Homo sapiens: one gene and its partner. The protein of the gene in region 2 purifies or fractionates together with the protein of the main gene of each other region. This does not show direct contact. Each region holds a gene or a part of one and is shown on either strand. Other genes may lie near its edges.

Region 1 (3,827 bases), on a different chromosome or scaffold from region 2:
CTTGAACCTGGGAGGCGGAGGTTGCGGTGAGCTGAGATAGCGCCACTGCACTCCAGCCTGGGGGACAAAACCAGACTCTGTCCCCAGCACCCAAAAAAAGTATTTAGGATAACCATTACTCAATGTATTAATCCACTTACAAGAATTCCTAATATCCCGAAGTAGGTCACTTTTGCCCAAACATTGGGTCTAACAATCACAACGCCCGTTCTCCGGACAGACTCAAAAACCACATGAGATGTTCCAGACAATCACGCTGCATTCAGTGGTGTCACAGAGCCAGATGTCTTAGGACAAGGGAGGGGACATTTACAGGTAACAGCCCAACATGAAGAGCAAACAACCCTTCCGCTTGTACCAGGTCATATTTTAACTTTTGAATTAACTTGCCCATCTAAATCAGGTCTTTCCACTGCCACTGTACAAGGGAGGAAGTCTTCTTTTACCCAGGTAATAAATATATTTTCAGTTCTTGTAAGCATTCCTCACAATGCAACTTACAGCTTAGTATTAATACTAGCCTGGCCGCCTCTCCTCTGGCTACAATTCAGTCAGATGGTGCCCCAAACTGAGCCCCATCCCCAGAGAACTGCCTATCACCTTCTTTCTCACTCTGGAATACTATGAGAGGTATTTCAATTAAACACAATGAGACCATCCTACATTTTGCTGGCCACAACTGGGAATGGCTTCTAAAAATGATAATACTGCCTGCCTGTCAGGCACTATTCTAAGAGCTCCACACATCTTCTCATTTAATTCTTATGAGATAGGTACTATTATTATTTACCGATGAAAAAACTGAGGCACTGAGGTCAATTACCTGTTCAAGATCACAGAGCCAGTAAGGAGTGGAGTGGGGATTCAAAGCCATGCAGTCCGTGCTTTTAGTGAGGTACTATGCTGCCTCCATACATGGGCACCCTTCCAGAAACTTCATAAACATCAACTCATTTTACCCTTACAACAATCCTATGATGATAATCCTGAGATTTTATAAAATCTCTGGAAATAATTTTTGCATCATCAAAAGAATCTAACTTAGAAGTCTGTATGTGGATTCTTTAAAAAAAAATCTATAGGTCATAGATACATAAGGAAACTACTGATTAGTCAAAACCTTAGATTTTTTTTTTTTTAAATTGAGACAAGAGTCTCGCTCTGTGAGCCAGGTTGGAGTGCAGTGGTGTGATCACAGCTCACTGCAGCCCCAACCTTCTGGGCTCAAGCAATCCTCCCTCGTCAGATTCCCGAGTAGCTGAAACTACAGGCATACACCACCATGCCCAGCTAATTTTTTAACTTTTTGTAGAGACGGGGTCTCACTATGTTGCCCAGGTTGGTCACGAACTACTGTACTCAAGCAATCTTCCTGCCTCAGCATCCCAAAGTGCTGGGATTACAGATGTGACCCACTGCTCCAGGCCCTTACATTCTATTTTGAATAAACTGAAATTCAAAGCATTGGGGGCTGCAATCATTGGACAAAGTGTGACCCTGACCTAAAAATCTGGAAGAGGCCCCTCCCCTAATCTTAAAAATATTAGAACCCTAATAAGAATACAAGACTAAAAATGTCCATTAATCATAGTTAATCTCATCTAGAACTTTTTTTTTTCCTCAGTTATCTACATTCTGGAGCTAAGTCTACTGGAAGTTATATACTATGCTGAGAAAAATACCCTTGGGTTGATCATATTCAGGTTAAAGGTTGCTGTATCCAATAAAGTTAAAAAAGGATGTTAAAATATTTTGGCTAAATTGTTTTTTATACCTCAATTTTTTCAACTATAAAATAAATCCAGGTGTTTTCCAAACACCACAGAGGTATTATCAGAAAAAAGGGGGGACAGGTTCCGCCACACCCCCCAACCACAGTATGAGTTTAGTGTATCCTTTCCACTTTCCTTAATGCTCATGCACATGGACTCATGCATTTTAATTTGTAGAAGACAGAGTCATACTCTACACAATACTCCACATATAGTGTTCACATAACCCATCAAGGCATGCTCCAGGCCAACACACCCAAGTCTAATTCATCCTCTCCAACAGCCACACATGGGAAGCATCTCCACTCATTCGACCAGATCCTTACTGATGGGTTCAAGCTTTTCCCAGTTCTTCATATGATAAGTGACGCCACAATCAACAATCTGATACATGTATTCCTGCTTAATCTGCTAGACTGCTCGTCAAAGGATATTAGTTTAAATCTGATAGAAGCCAAAATCTGTTCCCCAAAAAGTTGTAATTTTCACTCCCAAAACACTTTATGAGAAAGTCTACTTCGCTACACATTCACCAATGTTACCAACTGTTGCTAATCTGATGGGTGAAAAGGTAAATAGTTCCTCAGCAACTTTCTGTTGATGGGCCATTTGTATTCCTTACCTCTGAACTGGGAGGATACATCCTTTGACCATTTTTCTAGTGGGTTTTATTTTTTCCCATCAATTCTGTGAGCCTTTCTTATACCCTTAGTAATGTATATTGCAATTATTTTCTCGGTTTGTCTTTTGCCTTTATAGTATCATTTGTCCTGCAGAAATTTTAAATTTTTACATAGTCAAATTCACTTTTTTATGACTTTTTTCTTGTTCAACCCTGTAGTTTTACAATCTGTTTTCCTCTAATACCTTAACCTTTATGTTCAAATATTCTTCTTTTTTTTTTTTAATCGTAGAGACAGGGGTCTCACGAAGTTGTGCCAGGCTCTTCTCAAATTCCTGGCCTCAAGCCATCCTCCTGCCTTGTTCCCCCAAAGCGCTGGGATTACAAGTATGCGCCATCGAGCCCAGCCTCCAATTTTTTTAAAGTATTTTTAAGATGGTGTGGCCATCAAATATTTTATTTCCTCCTCAACAACTGACCATCAATTTTTAAAGTACTAGTGTAGCAACCAAATAAGTAAAAGAACCACCCTATAAAAGTGAAATCAAGTTACTGGCGAAGCAATTTTAAACCATGACACCTTCAACTGACATACATGGATTGTCAATATAAGCTGCCAATCTTAAAGACATCAGGTCGGCACTTTTATGGGTATGACATAGGAAAGTTCCATTTCTGCCTGATATGAACAAACACTTTTTTTTAGGTAAAATATATACATCTCTCCTTTAAAAAACTTGATTCATTCAGCAATTAAAACTTTTAAGGGCTTGGATGAAAACTACTAATTTAGCAAAATACCTGAAATATTTAGTGCATTCTATGTATTTTTCTAGATTATAAACATTTAAGAGGTTTAGGGGTGGGAACATTAGATGCAACGTTTAAAACAAAAATAAAAAGATCTAAACAAAATATTAATACATTTGATGTGATATAAGCAGTGTAGTATTCTCCCTTTGGACACTCAGTGCTTTCCCATAATTCATTTAAGACTGCGTTTTTCCACTTTTAAACAACTGTTAATGGCTCAGCCAGGCACAGTGGCTTACCACTGTAATCCCAGCACTCTGGGAGGGCCAAGGTGGGCAGAACACTTGAGCCCCAGGAGTTCGAGAGCAGCCTGGGCAACATGGCAAAGCCTTGTCTCTACAAAACATACAAAAATTAGCTGGCTGTGGTGGTGCGCACCTGTAGTCCCAGCTACCAAGGAGGCTGAGGTGGAAGAATCACCTGTGCCCACGGAGGTCGAGACTGCAGTGAGCTGTGTTTATGTCACTGCACTCCAGCCTGGGCGACACAATGAGGCTGTCTCAAAAATAATAACCCTGGCTAACATCTATAAAACACTATACATTCTACCCCACACTATGTGCAGCACCATACATACTGTACTAATTTGTACAGTAACAGTGGCAAGTGTCACCCCTTTT
Region 2 (3,827 bases):
AAGAAATCTTAGAGAGCTGAATCTGGCAGTTGGGTTTGTTTCTTCCCAGGGCGTTACCAATTCTGGAAGAGGAGATTTAGAGGCTGAGAAACAGAACAGAGTTTCCAATAAACTCAGAGCTGGTAAGAACTAAATATTTTATTGCAATATTACTTACATAAAAATTTATAATTAAAAAAATATTCCATTGTCTTCTGGCTTCCATTGTTTATGCTGTGAAGTCAACTGTAAATTTTACTAATAATCCTTTGGTGATTACCTGTCCATCCTTCCCCCTTTTCTAGTAAAGGCCAACTACAAATTAACTTTTGTGATGTCTGAAACCCAATTTAAAACCACCTCAATCCATGAAAATGCATTAGGGTAATCTGAGATGCTAGTGACTCCAGCTTTCTGACAGACACAATCATAAATCTTCTTTGGAGAGAAATAACAAGATTTCATATACACTGTTTAGCACTCGAAAATAACTAGACATATGAAGAGATTCTGTTAGCTTGACTGAACATCACCATAACCAACAGACTATAAAATCAACTCCAAAAAGAAGATCCCGATAAGAGGATTATCCAACATAACACTTTTAAAATAACTAGGCTTATTATGTTTAGGGAAATTAAAGGCAATATTAGTAATTTCTGTAGAGCCATAAAAAAGAATCAAATTCAAAATCTTAAAATCTATTCCCAAACCCATTTTATAATGGCAAAATAAACTTGATAATAAAATTAGATAATCTGTCTTTAACATAAATGGAAAAGTCCTAAAACAAAATAGTAACAAACCAAACTCGGTATATTATATGTAAAATATATAGTGACCACACTGGGTTTGTTCCTGGAAGACAAGGTTCGTTTAACACTAGTAAAGTACCACATGAGGCCGGCACAGTGGCTCACGCCTGTAATCCCAGCACTTTGGGAGGCTAAGGTGGGCAGACCACTTGAGATCAGGAGTTTGAGATGGGCCTGGCCAACATGGCAAAACCTTGTCTCTAATAAAAATACAAAAATTAGCTGGGCGTGTGACGTGCACCTATAATTCCAGCTACTCAGGAGGCTGAGGCACGAGAATCACTTGAGCCTGGTAGGCAGAGGCTATAGCAAGCTGAGATCATGCCACTGCACTCTAGCCTGGGTGATGGAGTGAGACTCTGTCTCAAAAAGTAAATTAATGGCCACATGAACAAAAGATAAAAATCATATGACATGCAGAAAAAGCATTCATTAAAATGTGCAACTGCTATCTCCCTAGCCAGATAGGGAATATAAACATATCTTGGAGATGCTGTGGGTTCAGTTCCAGACTGCCACACTAAAGCAAGTATTGAAATAAAGTGTCACACAAATATTTTGGTTTCCCAGTGCATATAAATGTTATGTACTCTAAAGTTATGACTATATTAAGTGTGCAGTAGCATTGTTTTAAAAATGAACATACCTTAATATAAAAATATTTTATTGCTAAAAATACGAATGATCACCTGAGTCTTCAGTGACTTAACAATCTTTTTGCTGGCGAAAGATCTTTTTTAAAAAATGTTTTTATTTCCGTAGGTTTTTGGGGAACAGGTGGTATTTGGTCACACGAGTAAGTTCTTTAGTGGTGACTTGTGAGATTTTGGTGGACCCATCACCCGAGTAGTATACACCGAACCCAATTTGTAGTCTTTTATCCCTCACCTCCTTCCCACCCTTCTGCCCCCAAGTCCCCAAAGTCCCTTGTGTCATTCTTATGCCTTTGCATCCTTATAGCTCAGCTCCCATTTATGAGTGAGAACATGTGTTTGGTTTTCCATTCCTGAGTTGCTTCACTTGGAATAACAGTCTCCAATCCCATCCAGGTTGCTGCGAATGCCATCAACTCATTCCTTTTTATGGCTGAGTAGTATTCCATCATATATATACACACATATATATACTACAGTTTCCTTATTCACTTGTTGATTGATGGGCATTTGGGCTGGTTCCACATTTTTGCAATTGCAAATTGTGCTGTTATAAACATGTGTGTGCAAGTTATCCTTTTCGTATGACTTCTTTTCCTCTGGGTAGATATCCAGTAGTGGGATTGTTAGAATTTTCAAATGGTAGTTCTACTTTTAGTTCATTAAGGAATTTCCACATATTTTTTCCCATAGTGGTTGTACTAGTTTACATTCCCATGCTGGTGGAAGATCCTGTCTTGATGTTACTGGCTGCTGACTATCAGGGTCATGGTTGCTGAAGCCTGCAGTTGCTGTGGCAATTTCTTAAAATCAAACAATGAAGTTTGACACACTGACTGACTCTTCCTCTCATGAAGAATTTCTCTGTAGCATGTGATACTGTTTGATAACATTTTACTCACAGAACTTCTTTTGAAATTTAAGTCAATCCTTTCAAACCCTGCTGCTACTTTACCAAGTTTATGAAATATTCTTAGTCCTTTGTCATTTCACCAGTGTTCACAGCATCTTCACTAGGAGTAGGTTCCATCTCAAGCAACTAGTTTATTTTCTCACCCATAAGAAGCAACTCCTTACCCATTCAAGTTTTATTGTGAGACTGCAGCACATTTTCAGGTTCCATTTCTAATTCTAGTTCTCTTCTATTACTTCTTCCACTGAAGTCTTGAACTGCTCAAAGTCATTCATGAGAGCTGGAATCTAATCCTTGCAAACAACCTTTAATGTTGATATTCTGACCTCCTCCAATGAATTATGTATGTTCTTAATGGCATCTAGAATGGTGAATCCTTTTCAGGTTTTCCATTTACTTTGCTTAGATTCATAAGAAGAATCACCATTTATGACAGCTATAGCCTTATAAAACATATTTCTTAAATAATAAGACTTGAAAGTTGAAATTACTCCTTGATCCATGGGCTACAGAATGAATATTGTGGTAGCAGGCATGAAAACATTAATCTCTTTACATCTCCACCAGAGCTCTTGGATGACTAGGTCTAATGTCAATGAGCAGTAAAATTTTGAAAGGAATCTTTTTTTTTTTCTGAGCAGCAGATTTCAACAGTGTTCTTAAAATATTCAGTAAACCATGCAATAAGCAGATGTGCTGTCTTCTAGGCTTTGTTGTTCCATTTTTACTAGCACAAGCAGAGTCAATTTAGCATAATTTCCTAAGAGCTCTAAGATTTTCAGAATGGGTAAATGAGCCCTGGCTTCAACTTAAAGTCACCAGCTGCATTAGTCACTAACAAGAGAATCAGTCTGTCCTGTGAAGCCAGGCACTGACTTATCCTCTCTAGCTATGAAACTCCCAGATGGTGTCTTCTTCCAACAGAAGGTGGTTTCATTTTCGTTGAAAATCTGCCATTTGCTGTAGCCACCTTGATCAGTTATCTTTGCTAGATCCTCTGAATGACTTGCTGCAGCGTCTACGTCAGCACTTGCTCCTTCACTTTGCACTTTTATGTTATAGAGATGGCTTCTTTCCTTAAACCTCATGAACCAAACTCTGCAAACTTCAGACTTTTATTCTGCAGCTTCCTCACCTCTCTCGGCTTTCACAGAATTGAAGAGAGTTAAGGCTTTGTTTTGTATTAGGCTTCAGCTTAAGGGAATGTGGTAACTGGAGAATGTTGATCTATTCTGACCACTAAAACTTTCTTCATATCAGCAATGGGGCTGTTTCACTTTCTTATCATTGGTTGTTCACTGGAGTAGTACATAAATTTCCTTCAAGAACATTCCCTTTGCATTCACAACTTGGTCATTTGGCACAAGAAGCCTAGTTTTTGGCCTACTGCAGCTTTTGATATGCATTCCTCACTAAGCTGAATCATTTCTAGCTTTTGATTTAAAGTGAGAGACATGCAACCCTTCC

What was found.
Region 1: the proteins of MAEL (region 2) and ILKAP purify together in Homo sapiens (affinity purification with western blotting, with the first as the bait; one study listed by BioGRID). This does not show direct contact.

Annotation. Positions count from the first base shown.
Region 1 is NC_000002.12:238,197,112-238,200,938, forward strand, and holds part of ILKAP (integrin-linked kinase-associated serine/threonine phosphatase 2C), read right to left. Parts: intron 1-3,827. UniProt on the Homo sapiens protein: Protein phosphatase that may play a role in regulation of cell cycle progression via dephosphorylation of its substrates whose appropriate phosphorylation states might be crucial for cell proliferation.
Region 2 is NC_000001.11:166,999,133-167,002,959, reverse strand, and holds part of MAEL (protein maelstrom homolog), read right to left. Parts: intron 1-3,827. UniProt on the Homo sapiens protein: Plays a central role during spermatogenesis by repressing transposable elements and preventing their mobilization, which is essential for the germline integrity.